Regions from separate parts of the Homo sapiens genome. Here regions 2, 3, 4 and 5 are each reported to be linked to region 1. Evidence: microRNA targets listed by miRTarBase, many of them from high-throughput screens and not tested one by one. Region 1 holds a microRNA gene; each other region holds the end of a gene's coding sequence.
The links. Region 1 holds the annotated microRNA hsa-miR-4534 (GGAUGGAGGAGGGGUCU, at 2,747-2,763, shown strand). A microRNA usually pairs through its seed, bases 2 to 8, with sites in the 3' UTR of a target mRNA and lowers its output. Matches are read on the target gene's strand: a 7mer-m8 pairs with bases 2 to 8, a 7mer-A1 pairs with bases 2 to 7 and ends in A, and an 8mer does both.

Region 1 (5,180 bases):
TCTTTGTTCGAAATACAGGTGAACGGCAATCATGTGATTAACACACACACACATAAAAAGCTTTTTAACAGCGCCCGCTCGGCCTCAGAACCGCCCGGAGAGGAGCCGCCCTGGATGGACAGAGGGACGAGGGACGAGCATCTGCCGTCGTGTCCCGGCTGCCCTGCAGTCGCCTCCAACACCCGCTGCTGCCCGCCCGCTGCCTGCCTGCCTGGCATCTCTCTCTCCCGGTGGGTCCCCACTCATCCTTCCACCCCTCAGTTCCTCCTCTTTGAGGAAAGGACCTCCCCGCTCTCTGCTGTGTCTGTGACTGGCCTGAGACCCGCCTGGGGCAGGAGGGGTGGTTGTGGAAGGAAAGAGCCCAGAGTTAGGAGGTGGAATGTGGGGTCCCACAGCTGCCCCCTCTCTAACTCCCTGCTTCCTCCTTTGCCCTCCTTGGTCCAGCTGTGCCAGGATGGGGGTGGGGGTAGCAGTGGGCACGCTCTGTCTGCAGGAAGCCACGCTAGACAGAAGGGGCCACTCCCTCTCTCTCTCCCTTGTCCCCGCACAGACACTGCCTTCCTCTCAGGGCTGTGCTGGGCTTTTTGCTGAGCAGTGTTGGGTGAGGCAGGTGGGCCTGCAGGGCGGGTGGGAAGGGCTGTCAGATGACCAGTGCTGTGTGTGTGTGGTTGGGGCCCCTGCTGCGAACACATCCCTGCCCACCATGCTGGCAACTGGGATCCCCTCCATCCCATCCCAGGCCCTGGGAACCCAGTGCTCTCCAGCAGGCAAGGGTGAAGGACCCATAGTCATTCCTGAAGAGCAGGGAGCTTGGAGAGGGGAGGGATCCTGGCTGAAGACACCTGGGCCTCTGCCCCAGCAGGACAACAGGAGGGCCAGTGTCACCTTCTCCTCCTTTCCCTGCTGGGGGTGGCAGGGGTCCCTTTACCCCCTCATTCTTGACCCTTCTCCAGGGATGCTTGTGACCTCCTTACCCCACCCCCCATCACCTCTCTGTCCTGAAGTGAGGGTTTGTCACCGTCCATGGCAAGGTGTGGTGTCTGGTAGGCTCTATGACCTGCCTTCTCTCAGGGTGTTTATTCTGCAGCAGAGAGGGGTCTGCGGTCTGAGTGTAATGGTGGAAATCCAGGCTTCCTTCCATGGCCCAAGGAGGCCTTTCCGGAGCAACAGGGTTTTCCTGGGACTCAGCCTGGCTTTTGTTAAGGCAGGTCCCGGATTTACTCAGAAGATGGGCCCCAGAGAGGAGGAGAGGAAAGGAATACCTGTCAGTCAAACGTGAAGCCCACTGATGACACTGCCTGGCAGAGCTGCCTCCGGTCAGCAGTGACCCTTCACCCCCCAGCTCCCAAGTCCTCTTCCTGAGGGAGCTGGTCCGGCTTTATGGAAGGCTCCGCCTGTGTTCCCCCACTGGGTCCCTGGTCCCTCACCTGTCACGTGGGGCGATGGTCACCCTCCCTCCCTGCCTGCCCTGAAGGATACACTGAGATGAAGGTCAGGAAATCTGCTGGCTGCAGAACCAGGGGCCATGCAGGAGTGAGGGATGGTCTGGTCAAGTTGAGGCTCTGCCCCAGCCTCAGTTTCCCCACACAGGCATGAGACTGTCTTCCTGACTTTCAGAGGACAGGGCTGAGATGGGATGAGGGAACACAGGGAAAGCGTTTAGCACCTCTGAGTGCTGTGTGGATGCGACCTGGGGGGTCCTGGCCTCCACTCTTTAATTCTATCTGGACTGTGTGCCCTCCTACCTCCAGTTTCCCTGCGGGGGCCTTTCACAGGGCCTGGCTTGCGGATACGGGGTTTGGCGTAGGGCAGTGCTTCTCAAATGGGAAGGCGCACTGGGATTCTTCAGGTTGGGGTGGGGCCTGAGGTTCTGCATTTCTAATCAGTTGCCTAGGACTGGCTCTAATTCTTGTTGAATTTACAATCACTTGTGGAGTTAAGAAAAACATACTGGGCCTTGGTTGGGTGTGGTGGCTCACACCTGTAATCCCAGCACTTTGGGAGGCCAAGGTGGGCAGATCATGAGGTCGAGAGATTGAGACCATCCTGGCCAACATGGTGAAACCTTGTCTCTACTAAAAAAAAAAAAAAAAAAAAATTAGCTGGGCATGGTGGCAGGCGCCTGTAATCCCAGCTACTTGGGAGGCTGAGGCAGGAGAATCACTTGAACCCGGGAGGTGGAGGTTGCAGTGAGCTGAGATTGCACCATTGCACTCCAGCCTGGGCAAAAAGAGCGAAACTCTGTCTCAAAAAAAAAAAAAAAAAGAAAAAAAGAAAAACATACTGAGCCAGGCGTGGTGACTCATTCCTGTAAGCCCAGCACTTTGGGAGGCCGAGGCGGGCAGATCACCTGAGGGCAGGAGTTCGAGACCAGCCTGGCCAACATGGTGAAACCCCATGTCTACTAAAAATACAAAAATTAACTGGGCATGGTGGCACGCACCTGTAATCCCAGCTACGTGGGAGCCTGAGGCAGGAGAATCACTTGAACTCAAGAGGCAGAGGTTGCAGTGAGCCGAGATCGCACCACTGCACTGCAGCCTGGGTGACAGAGTAAGACTCTGTCTCATAAAAACAAACAACAACAACAACAAAAAAACATACTGGAGCCTAGATCCCACCCCAGACTGGTTGATTCTGAATTTCTGGGGCTGAGGTACAAGCATAAAGTTCCCTGGGAGGTCTTCACAGAGTCTCTGGATCCCTGAGGCTGTGAATGACCCCCTTCCAGAGCCAAAATCACCAGGGATGGAGGAGGGGTCTTGGGTACTGGACCCACCAGCCAGGCAGGTTATACTGGGGTATCCGGAGAGCTTTGGGGTGTGGCAGGGGAGGGCCTATGCACTGGGAAGGTGGAGGGCCGACGGGCACAGGTTAGTGGTCGAGGGCAGCATAGTGACAGACAGAAGCTACCCTGTGGGTCTTCAGCCGAGTCTGAGTGCGCTGGGGTGGCTGTGGGAGCTCCCCTGAGCATTTTCTAGGCCACCTCCACCTTTGGATAAGGCTGTGTCATCCTCAGTCTCGGATGTAGTGGAAAGTGACTTGAAGTCAAGAAATCCTGCCACTAGTACCCAAGGGGCCTTAGGCAGATCACGCTATTAACCTCTCAGGACTCGGCTTTTGCATATGTACGATGTTGATAATCTTATGCACCCTTGATATCCCCAAGTGATGAGAGAATTAAATAAGAATACACACACACATCTCCCCTACCTAGCATAGTGACTGCTCAATAAATGTGAGTCAGAGGAAATCATTTAGCTATTAGGCCAGCACTGGGAGGTGTGGAGGATGCTCACCTCAGGTCAAGTGCACAAGTATTAACCGAGCAGCCACCACGGCCTCACAGTCAGGAGTTTATCATTTGCCTTTTGAATCCTAATGTCAGACCAGGTGGCATTCCTGCTTGGGATGACAAGCTCCTCTGTCATGGGTGGGCCTCCTCTGCCATGCCCCTTAACAGCGAAGGCGACACTCTAGGGCCTCCCCAGGTGCCGGCTCAGCTGTGAGGGCTCCTGTCATCGGACTTCATCCTCCCAACAACCCTCTGAGTAGATGCTATTATTCTCATTTTAGGGAGGAAACTGAGGCACAAAGCGATTCAGTGACAGGCCTGAGCTCGCCCAGCGAATGATGACAGGGTGTGGACTGGGACCTGTGGTTGGTCCCAGCCCAGCCTCTGACCACTCTGCTCTATTGCCCCTAGGCTGCAAGTGCAGCTGCAGGTTGGCCTGCTCCTGCCTCCTCTCCTTGCCTGGGCCTTTGGGCCTGCTCCACCTTCCCCTGGAGCGCTGTCCTCCCTCTGCCTGCTGGCGGTCTAGGCACTGCTGCAGCCCCACTGAGAGGTCCTCTTCCAGGACACACCTTGGGCACCTTGGTTGGAATTCTTTTCCCTATGACTTTCCCTCAGAGGAGGAGACACCTTCAGATGTGCTCTGCCTCCTTACTGAACAGCCTGGAGGACAGGCCAGTCTCCAGTTCCTATTGGGAGCCCCTGAGGCCATGCTCAGCCTCGGCTCACCTTCCCTGAGCCGAGTTGCTGTCAGAGTTCCAAGGAGGAAAAGACCAGGGAGGCTGGAGCGGGCAGGAGTGGCTTCCTGGAGGCAGAGGGTCTGAGCTCTGGGGGAGGAGGATGGCATTCCATGGCCTGTCCCAACAGGGGCTCTTGCCCCTCCCTGTTTCTGGTGCAAGCAGAGGGTCTCGGACCCAGGCCAGCAAGGCAGCTCCCGGGGTTGGAATCTTCCTTCGCTCCCAACTCCATCCTTTCTGGAAACCAGGAAGCTGGGGCCAGTGTCCAGCACTGCCTCTGGCAGCCTGGCCTCTGCTCTCTTCTGAGAAGCCTTCAGAGAAGTTGACTGCCCATTCCTGCCATCTGTCCCCAGCTGCTGGAATGCCCTTCCTGGCGTCTGCCCTGAGCCTCTCCAGCTGCTGGGAACTTCTGTGAATGTGTCCTCTGTGCAGGGCACTGGGCCAGGAGCTGGGACTGGGAGGTGAGAGAGACCAGACCTTGGCTTTGAGGAGCTGAGGGTTTGATGGGAGAGACCGATGTAGAAACCTGGAACCTGGCACGGCCAAACAGGCAGCTGGAGCTGGGCCTCTGGACCCCAAGAGCTGGGGTCAAGACCCAATGGCTGTGGAGGCCCTGTGTTGCCTTGGCAACCTTCTTCCCTCTCTGGGCCTCAGTTTCCCCATCTGTACAATGTAAAATCAGCAGGCTAGCTGATCTCTGAGAGTGTTTCCATATTTGATAACCCATGAATTGTATTTCAAAACAAGAGGCCCGTGCCTGATCCAGTGTTTGCAAGGTGATGCCTCGTGATGCCTCAGACCCTTGGTGTTCCTCAGGACACTGATAGGCATCTCTTGAAAGACATTTGGGAAACACTGCTTTCTGCTTCCTCTTTTTAGAGATGTAAGGGTGGGACGTGGTGGTTCACGCCTGTAATCCCAGTACTTTGGGAGGCCAAGGTGGGAGGATTGCTTGAGTCCAGGAGCTGGAGACCAGCCTGGACAACATAGTGAGACCCCCGTTTCCATTGTTATTATTATTACTATTATTATTTGAGACTGGCTCTGTTGCCCAGGCTGGAGTGCAGTGGCGTGATCTGGGCTCACTGCCACTTCCACCTCCTGTGCAATTCTCCTCCCTCAGCCTCCTGAGTAGGTGGGACACTACCGGC
Region 2 (5,000 bases), not on the chromosome of region 1:
CATATAAGTCACTACATTTTAAAATAAAACCTTTTAAGGGTAAGCATGGGTCACATGTTTTTATTCTTCTCTTCACACTCTCAAAATAAAATAAACATTCATAGTATGGAGTTAGACCACTAAATAAAATTAATTAGCATCTAACATTCCTCTAGGGTCTTAAACCACAACCTAATGGTACGGATCTTGCTTCTTTTCTTTAAAATCAAAGAAGCTAGCAAACTAAGACTGTGTGTCTTTGTGAGGCTTGCTATTAATCTGGGCTCTGCAAAGCAGGGCTACTTAGGTGTTCAATGATAGCTATTGGAAAGCAATCTCATTGCAGGTTTTAGAAGCTCTTGATGAAATGGGTGATCTCTTGCAACTGAAATATTCCCGGCACAAGAAGTCAGCACGTCCTGAGCTCTATGATGAGACGAGCTTTGAACTCGAAGATTAAGTTTCCTGGTCCTGAATGACACATAAAGACTTTGCGAGAAAGACCTCCCTCCTTGCCTCACAAGGAATATAAATGGATTTCTCCCCCTTCCTCAGGACAATTTTGGTTCCCAGACCAGCTTGATTGAACTGAGGGAGACGTTGTTGTTTTTAATGTCTCCAGCTTGGACTGCAGAGACAAAAACATGATTCCAGATTTAAGTCTCTCTTCTTCCAAGTATTCTACTAGAAATACACACACACACACACACACACTTCTGAGAATATTTTTAATGGCAATAAGCCTGTGTTTTAGCTGCTACTGTGCAGACCCTTTCAGGGATTCCAACCAAATGCAAATGAGAGAATTTAAAATTTTTATTCAGTAAGTTCACTATGTGTTTACTTATTCCATCTGCAGATGTAAGTGAGTGTGGTGGACAGTAGCCACCTTCCTTGTTCCACTCATAAAAGCATCAGCTAGATCTCATCTGTATCATGGGAAGTTCCAGGCAGGAGGGTAAAGAAATGTTGTTTCTACCATTTGTCACATTTGGACGTTTTTCACAGACAAGTGTCAAAAGACATAGTTAATGTTTCGAGGGGGAAAGCAGAACTGATCAACTGCGACTAGAGACGTCTTTGAAGGAAATTTTCCTTTTCCTCTTGCTGGTCTCCTACAGTTTTACAGCTGAGCTTTTGAGGTTTGGAAAATTCAAGATGTTTGTTTCATAAGAAAAGGGGCAGAAAGCAAGCACAAGACACTTTTAGGTCTAGACTAAAATGGTAGTTACAACAATTTGAACCTTGTTGGTGCAGTGCACGGTGAATGCTTACCCTGCACAGCCTCTATTACCTTAAGGAATTAGTTGTCATTTTCCTATTGAATTTTGAGTAAATGGTGAAATTCAGTGTCCTTTAGAATCGACTCCCAAGACTATATTTGAAGAATGCATTGATTCAAGAAGGACATTTAAAAGCAAATTCTGACTTTTTCAAGACCAACACACTTGTTTAGGCCTATTAAATTGTACTATCACTTGTTACATGCCCTCTGAATTGGGAGAAAGTGGGCTTGCACACTTTGAGGTAACTAACTGTAATTTACTTGTGTTCTCTCTTTCTTGCTCTCCTTCTCAACATGAACACAAACCTCTATGGAAAAGTAGCCTCTTGTTAATCTGATCTAGTTTGTATGGAAAAAGCCCATGGAGAACCTTATCTTTAACAAGCTCCCAGAGGGTGCCCAGATTTGGAAATTCTAGAGAGCAGTGGTGACCTTTTAGCAAAGCTTCTGTAACAGTTCGAATGAGTTGCAGAACATTCCACTCCATCAAATGACACTGTAAACAAATCACTTCAAGAGAGGCTTGGTTTTGTGTGGCACAGATGGACCCAAGCTTTCATGCTGTGCACTGAGATAGAAACTCCACCCGCAGCGCCTGCGATGGATGGAGCAGTGTGCCCTGATGCTCAAAGCGTATTAAAGGAAAAAAAGTGATCAGCATGGAAAGTTTTTATGGGGAAATTATAACTCCAAGTGGGTGCATTGGTTTAAAAATGGATCACAATGATAGAGTTCTTCATGAATGTTTACAAGTTGTAAGGAATACCGTTAGTGAAAGAGGAAAAGAAGTGGGTTCTGAAAATGCAGTTTCCCATCCAATGATTTTGATAACAAAATTCCAACTTTTCTCAATGAAACTGATGCAGTATTATTTGTGCAAATAAAATGTGTCATAAATATGCAAAGAAAGGGAGACATACTGTTCTTATCTTGAATATGTGCATTTAAATGAATTGTCCAAAATGCATAAATGCCTTGCGTTCTATAAAGGAAACAGGAGGTCAAAAAGACAGCGAGATATCTAGTCCTTCCACAAGGTATGGAAAGCAATAAACATCTTCCTTTCTTTCTGGATCTGTCTGTGATGTTTACACACACCTTCACATCTACACTTCAAGTTTTAAGCCCCTAGACATGTGTCTTCATGAGCAGGAATGTCCACTATTATTACTTTCATGGAGGATATTGGGTCTAATTCATTGTGGGAAACTACTTACCTACCCAGCATGGAAGGCAGGGAGGAAGTTAGTCTCTTTTCATCAAGATTCAAGAGTACAGGGGCAATTTATTACACTGCAATGTACAAAACAAAAGGACCTGTTTCTGTTAGAGAGTCCATGTTGAATATACAGGTATGAGAACAACTGTTGATATACAGGTATAATCCAAGTAGAATGCTTCCACAGTGCATTAGAAGGTGCCCAAGCTCCACAGGGCCAATAATATTAGAGTATATGTCATATAGAATAAGGTTAATTAGGAGGGTGATTGTGAATAATGAGATTTTTAATTTTTTTAAGAAAAAGCTCTCAAATGCTAGGCTAATAAGTTCATGATTTTAATTCATGATTTTAATTCATGATTAAAATTATTTGATTATTGAGTCTTGATAATTATATCATCAACCATTACCCTCTACATCACCGCCCCGACCTTAGCTCTAATTATATCAGAGCCAAAAATGTGTCTTTGGTTAGATCTGTTGGAAAAGAGAATTTTCTATAATGTTATGCGCACTCAGCCCTTCTGTTCACATTTACACACATGCACACACACATACACATATGCATTTTTCCTTTACGGAGTAAGCAACTATGAAAATCTGGTTGGTTGAGAAATAAATGGAAGATGTTCTTGAAAATGACCTCAGGAAAGCAGAAGATAAAGGTTCCAGATGATATTTGTAAGGAGGCTATCTCTGTATAATAAGGAAATGGCATAGACTTATTCCTAATCTCATTATGAAACGATGGTGTCATGGACGTTTAACCATATTGCCTTTCAGCATGCTTTGATTTTACAGAGACGACAGGCTTTGGAATTTACTAGGAAGCTGGCTAAAATCCATACCCCTAGGCCCTACACCAGACCTTTACTGAAACATAATAGTTGTAGTGCCCAGGAATCTACATTTTTAACCAGCCTTCCTGCGTGATTCTAATCTATGCCAAAATTTAAGAACATTATTCAAACTCTAATTTGATAAACCAATTGACTCTAATAGCAGGAACCTTGTTCTGATTCTCTTGTTCATAATTAAGTGTATATATACTGGTAAAATTAATTTATTCCACAGTCAACCTTCTCTTCTCATTGGGACATTTTGTTCCCATTTTCCAAGTAACTTCTCTTTCTACAAAAATTGATCCAATATTGAAGAACCATCTGCGATTCATTTGGGTAAAATTATGCCTTCTTCAGTTTTCTGTATCATTCCCTATAAGATGCCCATTTGCTTTGAATGTGGTATCTTTCTTTTCTTTCTTTCTTTTTTTTTTTTTTTTTGAGACAGAGTTTTGTTCTTCTTGTTGCCCAGGCTATAGTGCAATGGCAAGATCTCGGCTCATTGCAACCTCCACCTCCCGGGTTCAAGCGATTCTCCTGCCTCAGCCTCCTGAGGAGCTGAGTTTACAGGCATGTGCCACCAAGCATGGCTAATTTTCTATTTTTAGTAGAGACAAGGTTTTTCCCTGTTGGTCAGGCTGGTCTCGAACTCCTGACCTTAGGTGATCCTCCCACCTCGGCCTCCCAAAGTGCTGGGATTACAGGCGTGAGCCACCGTGCCCGGCCTGAATGTAGTATCTTTCTTCTGTTTTCTTTTCCTGCTCTTTAAAAAACAACCTTCAACCTCTGATTATTTATTCCAACAACAGCTCTTCAGTAGGGTAAAAGTCTTAACAGTTCTTCAAACGAACAATATTCTTTTGTATTTTTCTTCAGAGATAGCAAATGTTATAAATGGCCTACTCTGATTTAAAAACCTAAGTTCCGATGATGATGAAACATTAACTCTTAAATATACATTTTGATTTATAGCAATAATAACAATTGTAACAACAGCAATTAAGAACAGCATCTGGTGAATTCTTGGCAATGTTTCCTGGTCTCAAAACAGTAAGAACAATTTGAAGTCTGTTCTTTAGAATGCCCTACTCAGCTGCATAATGTTTAGAAAATTAAAGAGTCTGTATTTTAAATATTTTTAGGTAATTATTGCGGGACATTGTCTTATGGTGTCCTGATGTACGTGGGGTGTGCATGTGTGTGTGTGTGTGTGTGCATGTGTCTTTGTGTGTGTGAGAAGGACAGAGAGAAATGTATGTTTCACTGAAACATTTGAAACGACCAATTTCACTTTATTGTGCCTGTAAAATGTTAGTTTTAAAATAAATAAAAATAATATGAAAATAATTGATGGTTTTCTGTTGATTTAGTTTAGGTTACCCTGAAAAAAGACTGAGGTAGAGATTTGTATTTAGGAATTCCACTGGGAAAATTGGTAGGGGTGGCTGGAGCTGGCTTGCACTGTGATAAGAACTAATTGTGCACATTTCTTTCTAATTCCTCATTCAGTGACATCAGATTGGTAGCTTGAAATTGGCCACAATGGGAGTATTTACACCATGGAAATTGGCAGACACTACAAGTCAGGGCTCTAGAGAGCTGTCTGTTAAACATTTACTAGCACACCACTGAGACCACCTACAATGGTACAATACAAACGTAAGAGTAAAGG
Region 3 (5,180 bases), not on the chromosome of region 1:
CTGTAGTCCCAGCTACTTAGGAGGCTGAGGCAGGAGGAACGCTTGAGACCAGGAGTTTGAGATTACAGTGAGCTAGGATTGTGTCCCTACACTGCAGCCTGTAAGACAAAGAGAGACCCTGTCTCAAAAACAAAAACAAACAAAACTTGTTTTGCCCAAGGGTCAACTGTATAGAGTTCATATTATGACTAATTATTTGTTGTCATTGTTACTTAATTTTGTGCAATGGAGAAGGGATATGTTATTTAATATTACACAGAACCTATTCCTACACAATCAAGGTAGGCTTCAAGATATGGATAACATAGATATTATCAGTCTGAAGACAGATCCACATAAAGTTTTAACTTCAAATGCATAAAACTAAGTTTGGTAATCTGTAAAGGAAGATTGGAAAGACAAAATTCTTCAGGCTACCACGCTGAAAAAAAAAGTTTGTGATCTACATTTATGTATTTAAAATTTAAAGAGAGAATAGTATGTAAAATTAACTTTATTTGACATGCATGTATACCAAATATAAAATTAGCTTAGCTGACAGATCTAGGTTGGTTAAAACTCTAAATAGATCATACAAAACAAAGATTGGCAACCATTTCTTATATGCTTCTCATCTACAACAAGGACTTTTGCCATTGCCATAACTTGATATTGCTGGAAAACATTTTTGATATTTGACATTAACAGTATGAAGTAGAAAAATAGAAAAACAAGAAACATATATATACTGAAAAAAAATTCAAACAACAAGTCTATACATAGTTGCTTGTCCTTAGAAAGAAACATATCTAACAGAGCTAAAATTAGGAGTATCCAATATACACATAGTCATCAAGTTAATCTATTTTGCAAGAACCAACTTTCTGGCAGGAAAGAAAAGTGAATGAGTCTTCCTTGACACTCCATCAGGAGTTATGCATGAATCAAATAAAAGGATTTTGCTAAAGTCTGTTGACTCTTCCTAAACAACCTTTCTCTCTACTCTCACGAATACAGATCCTTTTTTTTTTAGAGATTGAGCATCTTAGCTAGTCCTTTAAAATGAGTTCCTTTGTTCTCCATACTTTTGGGATTTATCTTTCTGAACCCCAAATCTCGATTGCCTGTTCAAAAGTCTAAACTTCTTGTTCTATACAAGACTTGTACCAGACCATTGCTTTCCTTTTCTGACATCTTTACTCAGCACTCTGCTCTGCGCTGGCCCCTGAACCACTTGCACTTGCCTGAATGCCCTGTGCAGTTCCATGTTTTCAAGTCAACAACTCATAGGGTACCTCACAGCTATGTGCCAGGCATGTTGTAGGCAATTTTCATGCATTTGTTCATGCTATTTCCAGTGCATGGAATGTCCTGCCCAAAATCTGTTTCCTGGAAAATATCCACCCATCTTTCAAGTGTTGGTACATGGTTTGTATAAATTTGGTCATATCTGTCTGTCTCACTTTCTGTTCCTTCAGTCAGTCAGCTTTATGCAAATGTCAACTGCAGAAAGTCCTAATACAATTATGTCTACTGGGCCATAAACTCTGAGGAACAGGTCCATGCCTCATTCATCATTTCATCCCTAACACCTGCCTAGTATCTGACACTTACATTAATTCATCTTAGCCCCAATTAGTCCTATTCTTCTTTCATCTGTGACAAAGAATAAAATAAGCATGAAAAAACTTCATCAGACACTACTAGGTTATCATTTCAGAAATCAGAATAGAAATACATAAATATAAGAAACTTGCAGGAGCATAAGGATGAATCTTAATGGATGAAGCCCAGAGAATTCATGAACTTCCTCAAGTTACGAGACACATTAATGGCTCAGGGTTTCTTCTTCTTTTTTTTTTTTTTTTTTTTTTTTTTTTTTTGAGATGGAGTCTCACTTTGTTGCCCAGGCTGGAGTGCAGTGGCGCAATTTCCACTCACTGCAAGCTCCGCCTCCTCGGTTCACGCCATTCTCCTGCCTCAACCTCATGAGTAGCTGGGACTACAGGCGCCGGCCACCACGCCCAGCTAATTTTGTATTTTTAGTAGAGATGGGGTTTCACCGTGTTAGCCAGGATGGTCTCGATCTCCTGACCTTGTGATCCTCCCTCCTTGGCCTCCCAAAGTGCTGGGGTTACAGGCTTGAGCCACCGCGCCCGGCCTCAGGGTTTCTTTTATAACTGTGATCAGGAAGATGTGCTTTTCTTTCTACTTGGTTAAGCAACTAATCAAACTCAGCACAACAAAACAAAGATTCTCCTTTTCTCCCAAGAAGTTCAACAGTTCTAGCGTTGTAGAACATTTCACAAATAAAACCATCCTAGTTTCCTTTTCCCATAAACAGTTGAACACATCAGTGTGATAAGATCACCTCACACTATTTCTTGGCTTAATGCTAGCATTGCCTCCTGCATACAGATTTCTCTTACCCTTCTAGCAGATTTAATTGCTTCTTCCCCTGTATTCCCACAGCACTGTATATACTCTATTATAGCTAGTTTACGAATAATAATATTAATTCTGGACCATAAAATTGCAACTGGTCAATGCCTGGCATATAATGAACACTCAAATGAACAAGGAATTGAATCTTGCTTTAATGAAGTAAGTCAAGACTAATTATGTCAGTTCCAATCTTAAGAACGTCCTTGGCTTTTAATGAGGGGTCTTCATCTTTGAACACAGATTTAGTTTCAGACAGTGGTTTTTGCTGCCTGTAATAACTAAAGTTTGCAAAAAAATTAATTATTTGAGGACACTATATTTTTAAGAAATGAATTTCCTTAAACTATTCCTACAAGGGTAATATACAGTAAGTGAAAAACCACTAACACGGTAGTTCTCATAGTGGTTGCTTTTATGTATGCATACTTAAGATAATTTTAAGTGGTTAGAATAGGTCCAGAGAACACCTATATTCTATGGTGTTGCCATTTAATGTTTTAATTATTTAAAATACTTAAATAATTTAATATTTAATTTGAAAAATTAAATACTGAGTTTGTTGTGGGCAAATTAGTGGTGATAAAACATTATTAATCTAAAATCTGCTCTTAAAATTTGTTCAGATTATCATTGACTGATTGGCCCCGCCCTCCCCATATTCACTCATAATATGATTTGTTATTTTGTGATTCTTGACAGTTAAGAAAGCAATTTTAATACCTGAAATGCAAGTCTAGCTGTGGCTTCATTTTAAGAATTTGGTAATTTTGTAAAAGTGCTTGAATGCTTGTTTTACCATTGTTATATCTCAATTCTTATAAGACCCTCAGCAGAATCAATTTACATGACTGGCAGTACTAAGCCACTTTAAAATTATTTTAAATAATTTTATTTGCTTGGGTTCTACTTGTTTGGGTTTTACATACTACTGTGGCATCCTTCTTTTAAGGATATAAACTATAATTAGAAATGATATGGAAAAAAGTGACTAGAAAACAAATCTGAAGGCTTTTAAAAATTTCAGAGTACATTAGTAAATGCTTTAAAAGACAACCCATCCAATAACATATATGCAAGTTAACACTACAAATTCAATGACATAAGAAAATAGATTGGACTTACTTTTACATTCACCTCTACAGATACTCTATAATGAACACACTAGTATGATGATAATAAAGCAATCAAGAACAATTTATCTCTCAGTCTGTGTATATGTGACTATCTACATATTTATTTCACACACACATGCCAAATACCCACATAACTTCAATCCTATATCCATTTACCTCTCAGAGTGATTTAAAGTAGCCACAGTGGCACATAAAAGGAAAAAAATAATGAATTCCAGGCTTCCTAGTAAGTAAAGCCAAATCAAATTGTTCAAGTGATACTATAGTGCTATTTTTACAGGAAAACACAGATTTCTATAATTTCTGGTCATTTACTTCATCATTAAAGTACTATTTGCCAATATTGGTTTCACATAATGACAATAAAACATTCTTGACTTATATACTACATGAAAAAAATAGATTATGAGCTTATTTTTTGACCAGTCATCAAACATGTTTTCATTTGAATAAAGAAAATTCTTCCAGTTTAATATGTTTATCAATTTGTTTTTTCAATGAAACAAAGTAAATTTACAGTAAAGTTACTGGTCTCAATATAAGTCTTCCAATCTTCAAATTCAGCCGAACAGTACAAGGATTACAGGAGAAAAAAAAACACAATTAATCTCTTGTGGCTATCATTTTAGGGGCTGGTTTTCTCATATTGCTGAATTCTACCACACCCTGTCGTATTTCCAAGGTTTGGATGGTGCTTTAAATCTGAACTGCCTGAGAAGATTCAGAAAGCCTTTGTTCTTGGGCTTACACAGTAAGCACTTTGCGTGATTCCTAATCACATTTTTATCCAGAACACAGTGTTACGGGTCACATTTTTCTCAATAATGCTTATATTGATTGATGCTCTATAAATATAAACATATTTACATACAGAATACACACACTGACATGGGGGTATGAAGTTAGCCAGCCATCCATAGGAAGAATGGAATAAAAATTGCAGGAAGGGTAGTGTATGATACCAAGCCCGTACAGACTATAGACGCCAATCCCAAGACTGCTGAAGCAAGAACACTTCTCTGATCACGAATAATTATCTTCACAGTCTCACAAAACTGGAAAATAAAATATTGGAAAATTAGGAAAGGTGGCTAAACCCAAGAAGAATCACATATATCAAACAGTAAATCAGTTTTCCCAGCTATTTTCTGTCTACCAGAAGAACTAGACTTTTTCTTATGACTTACAAAAAAATTTACAATGTTAAGAGTCCAGTTCTGATTCTATACCGTATAGTAGCAGAAATGATCCCTTAGGCAACTAATAATGGCAGTTGCCTATGTAAATACAGCATTTATAGAAAACTATAGAAAGTATAACCACATGGTTATTCAGGACTAAAGGTTTAAAACATCAAACTGCTTATCAATAACAATAGCATATTTTAAAATTAGATGAGCAAAGAGGTGTCTCTAATCTTGAGTAAAAATAATAGAATTTGGCCAATTAAAAGTAGATTCAATTCCTCCAATCTGCCATTCTAAAATCTAATGATACCAATGATAACTTTTTTATAAGTCTCAAAATCTACAGGCATAGAAAGTCTAATTTTATTGTCAAATCCCATTTCCTGACTAAATATGCTAAATTCAGGATCAATTATGTGACACATAACTGGCTGCT
Region 4 (5,180 bases), not on the chromosome of region 1:
CAATTTTTCTTTCTTTTTTTGAGACAGTCTCGCCTTGTCACCTAGGCTGGAGTGCAATGGTGCAATCTCGGCTCACTGCTACCTCTGCCTCCTGGGTTCAAGCAATTCTTCTGCCTCAGCCTCCGGAGTAGCTGGGATTACAGGTGCATGCCACCCCACCTGGCTATTTTGTATCTTTAGTAGAGACAGGGTTTCACCATATTGGCTAGGCTGGTCTCAAACTCCTGACCTCATGATCTGCCCGCCTCGGCCTCCCAACGTGCTGGGATTACAGGTGTGAGCCATCGCACTTGACCAAAAAACAATTTTTCAAGTGCATTAAAAATACCAACTTTCTCATCAAAACCTACAAAGTAGCATGTGAAATGACATGGCATTACAAAAGTGAGAAAATTGTAGCTATAAAACAGAAAAAAAGAAGTGCTGTGATGTCATGCAAAGTTGGAAAACACGTAAGACAAACCTGAAGATAAATGGAAAATAAAACAAGCAGAATTTTGCTTTATATTCAGCAAGATTCAGGTTTGCTGCCTAAAAAAAGATCCTATCCACATAAAGAATCAATGTTTTTTCTTTGTCATTTATATTTTACATCTCTGACTTAAAGTTACAAAATAACTCTAGCAGGAATATTTACAGATTATAAAACATCTGTTACTCGGCAAGCACTGTCACGTTTTTTTGCTACATTTATATATTAAAACATCCTCATGACTTATGAAGCCTCCTTAGTACTTACCTGAATGTTATGGGAAGTCAGGGACCCTGAACAGAGGGACCGGCTGGAGCCGTGGGAGAGGAACATAAATTGTTAAGATTTCATCTTAATATGGACATTTATCAGTTCTCAAATAATACTTTTGTAATTTCTTATGCCGGTCTTTAATCTCTTAATCCTGTTATCTTCATAAACTGAGGATGTACATCACCTCAGGACCACTGTGATAATTAACTGTACAGATTGATTGTAAAACGTGTGCTTGAAAAATATGAAATCAGTGCACCTTGAAAAAGAACAGAATAGCGACTTTTATGGAACAAGGGAAGACAACCATAAGGTCTGACTGCCTGCGGGGTCGGGCAAAGAGCCATATTTTTCTTTTTGCAGAGGGCCTATAAATGGACGTGCAAGTAGGAAATATATCACCAAATTCTTTTCCTAGCAAGTAATATTAATACTCTGGGAAAAGAATGCATTCCTGGGGGAGGTCTATAAATGGCTGCTCTGGGAATGTCTGTCTTGTACAGTTCAGATAAGGACTGAGATAAGCCATGGTCTCCTGCAGAACCCTCAGGCTTACTAGGGTTGGGAAAACTCAACCCTGGTAAATTTGTGGTCAGACTGGTTCTCTGCTCTCCAACCGTTTTCAGTTGTTTATCAAGACAATACATGTACTACTGAACATACACCCTTATCAGTGGTTCTGCTTTTGCCCTTTGCCCTGTGATCTTTGTTGGACCCTTATCAGAGGTTCTGCTTTTGCCCTTTGATCTTTGTTGGAGCCTTATTAGTGGTTCTGCGTTTGCCCTTTGCCCTGTTCCCTCAGAAACGTGATCTTTGTTAGACCCTTATCAGTGGTTCTGCTTTTTGCTCTTTGAAGCATGTGATCTTTGTACCTACTCTCTGTTCTTACACCCCCTCCCCTTTTGAAACCCTTAATAAAAACTTGCTGGTCTGAGACTCAGGCGGGCATCATGGTCCTACTGATAGGTGATGTCACCCCTGGCAGCCCAGCTGTAAAATTCCTTTCTCTGTGTTATCTCTATTTCTCAGCCGGCTGACACTTATGGAAAATAGAAAGAACCTACATTGAAATATTGGGGGCGGGTTCCCCCAATACCTGAACTGGCTCAATCAACAAATAAATTTACTTCTGTCAATTATAAAAAGTGAAAGGAATAATAACTTAAATAGGCTTATATAAGGTTCTTCAATTAGAAGAACAAAATAGAATGTTTTAATTCAATAAAACAATACACTAATTGTGGAACTACATCTAAAAATTATTTTGTGTGCCCTACTAAATTTTATAAAAATAGTTTATATCTTTGACCACTTCACATAATGAAAACCTCATAAACTATAAAAGAAAAAAAATTGTAAGAAACAACAAAAAAATGTGGGCTAGGCATGAGTACCAATCAAGTAAAAACAAAATTTGCATAAGATTTTGAACCCATAAGCCATACTATTTTACAGTAATTCAGTAGAAAGAGTATAGATTTGCTTTCCGCATTTTTGAGGTTTATAGTTTTCTAGTAAATTAGTTACCTTACTAAAATGTTTTGTTCCAATATTGCTCTTTTCTTCTGAAAATAGGAACAAATTTATACTCACACAAACATGCTTACTTACTCCATAATTTTCTTACACCTAGGGTTTAACTTAAGAGTAATGTATGTATATATTTAACTTTACTAAGTCAAAACTAACAAGTCTGTATGTGTTTGCAGGCAGAGAAACAACATGTTCAAAAATACATATAACAATTTTTTTAATGCTTATTTAGGACTCAGAATGTGTGGACTTTATTTATACTTCTATATAATTTTTAGCATAACCATAAAAATAGCCCTGTAGTCAATAACAATTGTACATTAAAAAAAACTAAAACTGTAGAATTGGTTTATAATACAAAGGATAAATGCTGGAGATGATGGATACTTAATTTTTCCTGATGTAATTATTACATATTATATGTCTGTATCAAAATGTGCTATATATGGCATAAATATACACATACAATGTATCCACAAAAATTAAAAAGTATAAACTTAGATGAGAAATAAATATTTAACCTATGAGAACATTCTTTAACCTCCTTGCAGTTTAAAGTCACTGGCAAAAGGGATTACTAGAAATGTTTGTCCATTATGTTACCAAATAGTATGTTACCATCTTTTGCCTACACCAGTGAGTAAAGTGAAATAGGTTAAAGTTAATGGCATACTAACTTTATTAAATGTTTTATAAATGTTAAATAAAATTTTAATAAAATATTAAGTTCACACATAACTTAAAATTTTAAGAACGTACATTTTATTACATAAAAGTACAATTAGTAAAATAATTTACTAATTTTAACTAAAATTTAAAATGCTTTTTTCTCACTATAATGCAGAATATTACCCTGAACACCCACCTCATGTGTCACTTATATTAACAAAAAGAGCCTCTCCACTTAGATTTTTATGTGTCTTACATTTTAATGTCCTTACCCTTCCATAAAAAAGATCATAATGCCCAACTAATAAAAAAAAATTCTCCTATCTCTGATGCAACAATTAGTCACAAGTTGAATACAATAGAAATGAAGAAAACAAGAAGAGTTTTGAATTTTGAGAGTTGAATTACATTATTCATGTTGCAAATAATCTGTATTTTTTAAGGAAAAAAGTATACTTTCAATGTAATTATAACTTTTCAAAAAATTTTCTACACCTTTTAAAGTTATACACAATTTATCTAACAACTTTAGTTCTGGATTATTTTTTATACTCAGCATTCTGATTTACTGTAATGTCTGAAGTGTCAGTGCCTTAGATATTTCTGAGCTATCTGATATTTACATAGACTTAATTTTAGAATAAATATTGTTTTATATTTACTGCATCTACAAAAAAAAAAAAAAAAATATATATATATATATATATATATATATATATATAGAGAGAGAGAGAGAGAGAGAGAGAGAGAGAGAGAGAGAGAGAGAGAGAGAGAGAGAGATGGAGTTTCACACTTGTTGCCCAGGCTAGAGTGCAATGGCACGATCTTGACTCACTGCAACCTCTGCCCCTCCAGTTCAAGCGATTCTCCTGCCTCAGCCTCCTGAGTAGCTGGAATTAAAGGCACTCACCACCATGCCTTGCTAATTTTTGTATTTTTAGTAGAGACAGGGTTTCGCTATGTTGACCAGGCTGGTCTCGAACACCTGACCTCAGGTGATCCATCCACCTCGGCCTCCCAATATGCTGGGATTACAGGTGTGAGCCACTGCGCCCAGCCTGCAGAAATATATTTTAGTACTAACTCTCTGGTGTTTTCTAAAGCTATAGATTTTGAAAAAATGTGTTTTTCTAAATGTATTACATTTGCAGAGTTTTTCTCCCATACAGATTCACTGATGTTGAAAAAACTTTGAGCAACTGCTTCAGGGTTTTTCTCTAGTACAAAATGTACATGATAAGCTTTATGATACCAGTAAATGTACTACAACCCTCTTTATGTTTGTAATCTTTGTCTTCAAAACGAATACTCTTCTTCACTTTAAAGGCTTATATTTTCTTAAAGTCTTTAGACAGTAATTGCATTTATAATGCTTTTATTAAGTACCAACATTCTGATATTAAGATGTCAACAGATATTAATGGCTATTTTACACTCTTTATATTTGTACAATTTTTCTTAAGTATAAACGCTTTCCTGTGCAATAAGGTTTGAGCCTTAATTAACAGTATTGCCAAATTCTTCACACTTGTAGTTTTCTCCAGTATGAATTATCTTACATACAATGAAGTGTGAAAACCATTTAAAGTCTTTGACACATTCTTTACATTTCTAGAATTTTTCACCAGTATGATTTCCTTTATATTTAGAAAAATTTGAGGTGTTGTCAAAATCATTATCACACATTCCAGTTCTGTAGTTTCTCTCCAGTATGTATTTTTTTATGTTTAGTAAGGTTTGCAGATTGGTTAAAAGCTTTGTCACATCTCTCACATTTATAGGGTTTCTCTCCAGTATGAATTATCTTATGTTCAGTAAGTTTTGAGGATCGGCTAAAAGCTTTGCCACATTCTTCACATTTGTAGGGTTTCTCCCCAGTATGAATTCTTTTATGTGTAGTAAGGGATGAGGAGTGTTTAAAAGCTTTGCCACATTCTTCACACTTGTAGGGTATCTCTCCAGAATGAATTTTCTTATGTTCAGTAAGTTTTGAGGATTGGATAAAAGCTTTGCCACATTCTTCACATTTGTAGGGTTTCTTTCCAGTATGAAGTTTCTTATGTTCAGTAAGTTTTGAGGATCGGTTAAAAGCTTTGCCACATTCTTCACATTTGTAGGGTTTCTCTCCAGTGTGAATTCTCTTATGTGTAGTAAGGGCTGAGGAGTGTTTAAAAGCTTTGCCACATTCTTTACATTTGTAGGGTTTCTCTTCGGTATGAATTTTCCTATGTTC
Region 5 (5,000 bases), not on the chromosome of region 1:
AAGTAGCTGGGACTACAGGCGCCCGCCACCATGCCTAGCTAATGATGTTTTTTGTATTTTCAGTAGAGAAGGGTTTTCACCATGTTGGCCAGGATGGCCTCGATCTCCTGACCTCATGATCCGCCTGCCTGGGCCTCCCAAAGTGTTGGGATTACAGGCATGAGCCACAGTGCCCGGCGAGTTTTCACTTCTATTATTGTATTTTTAGTTCCATAATTTCATTTCAGTTCATGTTTTATAACCTTTATTTCTTTGCTGAGATTTATAATTTTGTTTTCATTTGATTGCAGAAAATTTGTAAATGATCACTAAAGCATTTTAAAAAGATGTCTGCTTTAAAATCCTTTTCAGATGGATCCAACCTCTGATTCATTTCAGTTGGGGTCAGTTGATTGTCTTTCCTCATTCAAGCCATGATTTTCTTGGCTCTTGGTGTGATGATTGTATCCTGGCCCTTTTGTCTGTCATGTTATGTAATGCTAGGTGCTATTTACATCTTTGATAATTTTAGCGAGCAAGCACCTTGTTTGGGGTTGGCATGTGGGCCTTAGCCTATTTTGTGGGTGGGGGAGGAGGTTTCAATGATAGTTTGATTATTGGAGCCTTTAATGTTTTGCTTTGACATCCTCAGTGGATTTAGTGCCAAAGGAGGTTCCCACTGCTCTCTGCTGGTGCTAGCTGAGGGTGCAGAAGGGTTTACCAGGCTTCTGGTGTGTGGGGTGGGGGTGGGCTGGGGGAGATGTTGGTGAGGTGGGGTTGGAAGGATCCCTCTTCCCAGTGTCCCCTCACCTATTCTACCCCCTCTGCCTCTGTGTCTGGGATGAGGGGACTCTCCATCTCAAACCTGCAGGGACAAAGAGCCTTCTTTGGTCAGGTCACTAATGTAGCTGCACCTCTTTTGCAGGTTCTGCCTTTTTAGCTATTTTTCCTTTGAAAAGGCAGTCCTAGGCCCACAAGGAATATGGAGCCTTCCCTGGTCGCTTATTGTTGGTGTGGCTCCTGTATCCATCCCCTTTGCTGGTGGTGCAGCCTGTCTGGTAGTCAGAAGAGTACCAGTTCCATCTGGAGAAGGAATGGGCAGGGGTGGCAAACAGCAGGTCTGAGTGGCCTTCTGTTTGTGGGAGCCCACAAGTAAGTCACCCTATGCTCTGCTGTTTCTCTGGTTCTGGATCCCAAGAGGCAAGAAATTCCCAGAGTTCTCTGGTCCATAGAGGATGACCTTAGATAAAGAATTGTTGGCTGGGCGCAGTGGCTCACACCTGTAGTCCCAGCACTTTGAGAAGCCAATGCTGGTGGATCACTTGAGGTCAGGTGTTGAAGACCAGCCTGGCCCACATGTCGAAACCCGATCTGTACTAAAAATACAAAAAAAAAAGTTAGCCGGGCATAGCGGCATGTGCCTGTAATCTCCAGTTACTTGGGAGGCTGAGGCAGGAGAATTGCTTGAACCCAGGAGGTGGAGGTTGCAGTGAGCCAAGATTGCGCCACTGCACTCCAGACTGGGCGACAGAGCAAGACTCTGTCTCAAAAAAAAAATAAAAAATAATAAATAATAAAAAATAAATAGTTTAAGGATGGGATGGAAGTAAAGACACACCCCTCCATTTCACAGTAGACACTAATAGAAATAAACAACATGAAATATACAATTCCTGTTTGAGAAAAATGTCAGAACACTATATATTAAAAGTAAACCTTAACAAATGGATAGACAGCATAATCCTGGATAGCAAGACTCAGCATCACAGAGATGTCCATTCACTGGACAAAAATAAGTGTAAAATACCAAGCATAATAAGATAGATGTTCAGCACATACATTGGCCCTTACACTCTCACAGTTAAGAGAATACCATCTTCTCAAGCACATGGGGAACATTCATAAAACTACCATTATCAAAAAACCATTACCATCCCAGAACTTTTCTTACCTTGCAAAATGAAACTTTGTACCCATTAAATAACAGCTTCCTACTTCTCCCTCCCCCAGCCCGTGGTGAGCACTACTCTGCTTTCTGAACGTTAACTACTCTAGGCACATCATTAAGTGGCACCATATAGTATTTGTCTTTTTGTGATTGTCTTGTTTCACTTAGCATAATGTGTTAAATGCTCATCCATTTTGTATCGTGTCAGAATTTCCTTCCTTTTTAAAGCTGAATAATAGTCTGCTGTATGGATATACCTATTTTGCTTATCTATTCATCATCGGTCAATGGCCACTTAGGTTTTTTTCCATCTTTTGGCTGTTATGAATGCTATGAACGTGGATATACGCGTTTTTGTTCTGTCCCTGCTTTTTAAAAATAAAAATACAGATGGTCTCCAACTTCATGACAGTATAAAAGCGATACCCATTTAGTAGAAACCATACTTCAAATTTTGATTTTTTTTCCCAGGCTGGCGATATGTGGTATGATACTCTCTCGTGACATTGAGCAGTGGCAAGTGAGCTGCAGCTCCCAATCACTATGCACTCAGGAGGGTAAACAACCAACCAATACTCTACTGTGCTGATACCGAAAGTGCTGAAGCTTCTAAGCTGTGTTAATAATGCATTTGCAATGTATGATATTTTCAACTTACAATGGGCTTATCAGGATGGAACCCCATCGGTAAGTCAAGGAGCATCTGTAGTTACGATGTTTTTTTCAAGGAGCATCTGTAGTTACGATGTTTTTGAAGGGAGACTTTGAAGGAATTTTGTTAAAAATAAAATTTTTTTGAAAATACATACCTTTTGCATCAGCTGAAAGATTACAACTCAGTTTAATTGAAAGCCACCCAACAGAGAACCCAAAAGAGCAATACTATTTGCTTTAAAAAAAAGACACAAGACATAAAAGTAACCACTGTAAATTTATTATGCATTAGGAAGCTTAACCTAAAAACCAATAGCATAGTAAAAAGATATGTTATCTCTGTTCATAGCAGAACAGGTTTCAAAATATATTTTCTTTTAAATGTATTCAGTCAGTACACAATCCTTTATAAAAGTTGTATATATTTTTTTCTGTCAATACCTTCATTACATTTATAAATACAAGATTTACACAGCACCCCATCAAAAAAAAAAAATTAAAACCCTTTACAAATATCTACATATATTTCATACCTATAAAACTTTCAAAGGGGTGCTCTGTTAAAGGTGGGCCCTAGTTAATGGTCCATTTACTGGTGCAGCAAAATACATATAAATCTGTAAAGTTTTCTTTGTCCATAAAACATCTCAAAAAATAGCAAGACACTTATCGTGAAACTCAGCTTCATAAAACCTTATTTTAGAAAGGAACTTAATGTGCGTATTCCCATGCGATTCAAAAGTTAAACAGATTGAAATAAAGATGAATTGAAAACAAATGCATACTCAGAGCAGTTAAGGCAGGAGTGTGATGGATGAGAAAAACTTTGAGAAGCAGGACATGGAAGACATGGGAAGAAGCAAATCATAATAATGCCTTTGAGTCTGAACTTGGATATAAACTTCACTCGTATCCAGTTACTAACTCTCATCCTACTTAGGAATTTCCAAATTGTTAATAACTTTCTTAGAAGCAGCCTACAATCTCTATGTTGCCACCAGAATGCTTGAGTTGTTTTTTTCTTCTGTAAAATCACCTTGGACCCAACCAGGACACCAGGTCCAGGAATCTGAGTTGTTGAGTTTTACATGATTTAAGTTTGTAATGAAAATTTCTTTCATCTAGTAAAGGTAATTACTATTCAATATTATTATGTCCAGAAGTGTATATATGCTGAGTTTCATTCTAGCTAAGAATAGAAAGTAGAATAAAAGGAGACTAGGTTTTTATTTGACCTTTGAACAAAGACAGTAGATCCCTGATACTGAGTGACTCTTTAAGAGTGGCCACTCATCAACACCTATGGGCTGATTCAGAGAAACAGGAAGGTAGAAATTAAGAAGAGATTCTTTACCTGAAATCTTGCCAGAGATGGCAGTCCCGCTACTGTTCTGTGCCTTCTGCTGAAAAGGGCATGGAAAGATTGCTGCCACTCTTACTCTATAGTCATTACAGGAAAGCCATCCTTTCTACCAGAGAGATGACTTTTTCTATTTGAGTTTCACCTTGGGAGTTGCACATTATTTGCAAGGAAGTATTTCAAATCTTATCTTGTTCTAATGTATAAACAGGAAAAAAAAAAAGAATGTAAGAGAAAAAAAAAAAACAGGAGGAGGATGAGCAGAATGATGGCGGTGGTATTTATCAAACTTGGCCCTGAAGGATGCCGCTAGCGTCTCCCATCCAGCACCATGAAGTCACCAGGGGTGTGGCTCCCTCCATGGCTCTCAGAGATGGCGTATGCAGAATCCCACTTTCTGCCGAGTTTACAGCTCAGTGCACTGATTCCCAGGCTCCTCAAATGAAGAGAGCTCCCAGATGCTGCTGTCTTGCAGTAGTGGCTCAATGTCCTCATCACTGCCCCGTTCTGGGGTGTTGGTCAGGCTGCCGCTGCTGCTGTTACTGTGTTTTTGAACTCCACTGGCTTTACTGTATTCAGGAATGAATAAGGCAACCAGAAAAGACATAAGGACTATACATGCCCCAAATAAAAACGGCGGGCCTGGGATGACAGCTCCCTGTTGAACGTGGAAAACAAGTGGAGACAAAGAATACAGTTAGTCTTTTAACTCAAAATTATTCCTAGATTACCCAAAAAAAACACACCACCAAAAAGTGAATCATATTCTCATAAGCAAATGTTTCATTAAATGTCAAGGCAAACTCCACTAGAGCTTGGTGTTTGGAATATGACAAAGGGCAACTAATTAACTGCTTTTTGTACCACTTCCAAATAGCTTAAGCAAAACTGTAAGCTTGTAAGCAACAGCTGTTTACCTATAATCCCATCCTATGACTTCAGATCATGCACCTTTGTACATGAACATTAATTCCAGCTTTGTATAGATATGGCTTAGAGGGAACAAGGGAAGAAATTTCAAATAAATAGTACAAAAAGTACCCTACCTCAATTTTTAGC

Region 2: miRTarBase lists SPTLC3 as a target of hsa-miR-4534. Seed matches in the 3' UTR shown: 8mer at 1,746-1,753.
Region 3: the mRNA of LRAT is a reported target of hsa-miR-4534. Seed matches in the 3' UTR shown: 7mer-m8 at 1,865-1,871.
Region 4: miRTarBase lists ZNF675 as a target of hsa-miR-4534. The part of its 3' UTR that is shown has no 7-base or 8-base seed match.
Region 5: the mRNA of SLC71A2 is a reported target of hsa-miR-4534. Seed matches in the 3' UTR shown: 7mer-A1 at 3,390-3,396.

Annotation. Positions count from the first base shown.
Region 1 is chr22:37,986,083-37,991,262 of GRCh38, forward strand. It overlaps MIR4534 (microRNA 4534), which reads left to right and starts at 2,712; the gene lies at 2,712-2,771. It also overlaps a transcript of POLR2F not described here. RefSeq lists an enhancer at 1-368.
Region 2 is chr20:13,164,429-13,169,428 of GRCh38, forward strand. SPTLC3 (serine palmitoyltransferase long chain base subunit 3) reads left to right here. Exons shown (of 12, transcript NM_018327.4): 12 at 326-4,675. The coding sequence ends at 439. It also overlaps a transcript of TASP1 not described here. Among named protein-coding and RNA genes, the nearest start is that of ISM1, 54 kb to the right of the region's middle.
Region 3 is chr4:154,748,416-154,753,595 of GRCh38, reverse strand. LRAT (lecithin retinol acyltransferase) reads right to left here. Exons shown (of 3, transcript NM_004744.5): 3 at 476-4,612. The coding sequence ends at 4,460. Among named protein-coding and RNA genes, the nearest start is that of LRAT, 7.0 kb to the right of the region's middle.
Region 4 is chr19:23,648,601-23,653,780 of GRCh38, forward strand. It overlaps ZNF675 (zinc finger protein 675), which reads right to left. Exons shown (of 4, transcript NM_138330.3): 4 at 4,201-5,180. The coding sequence ends at 4,626. Among named protein-coding and RNA genes, the nearest start is that of ZNF675, 36 kb to the right of the region's middle.
Region 5 is chr9:94,458,760-94,463,759 of GRCh38, reverse strand. It overlaps SLC71A2 (solute carrier family 71 member 2), which reads right to left. Exons shown (of 12, transcript NM_032558.3): 12 at 2,718-4,599. The coding sequence ends at 4,348. Among named protein-coding and RNA genes, the nearest start is that of SLC71A2, 87 kb to the right of the region's middle.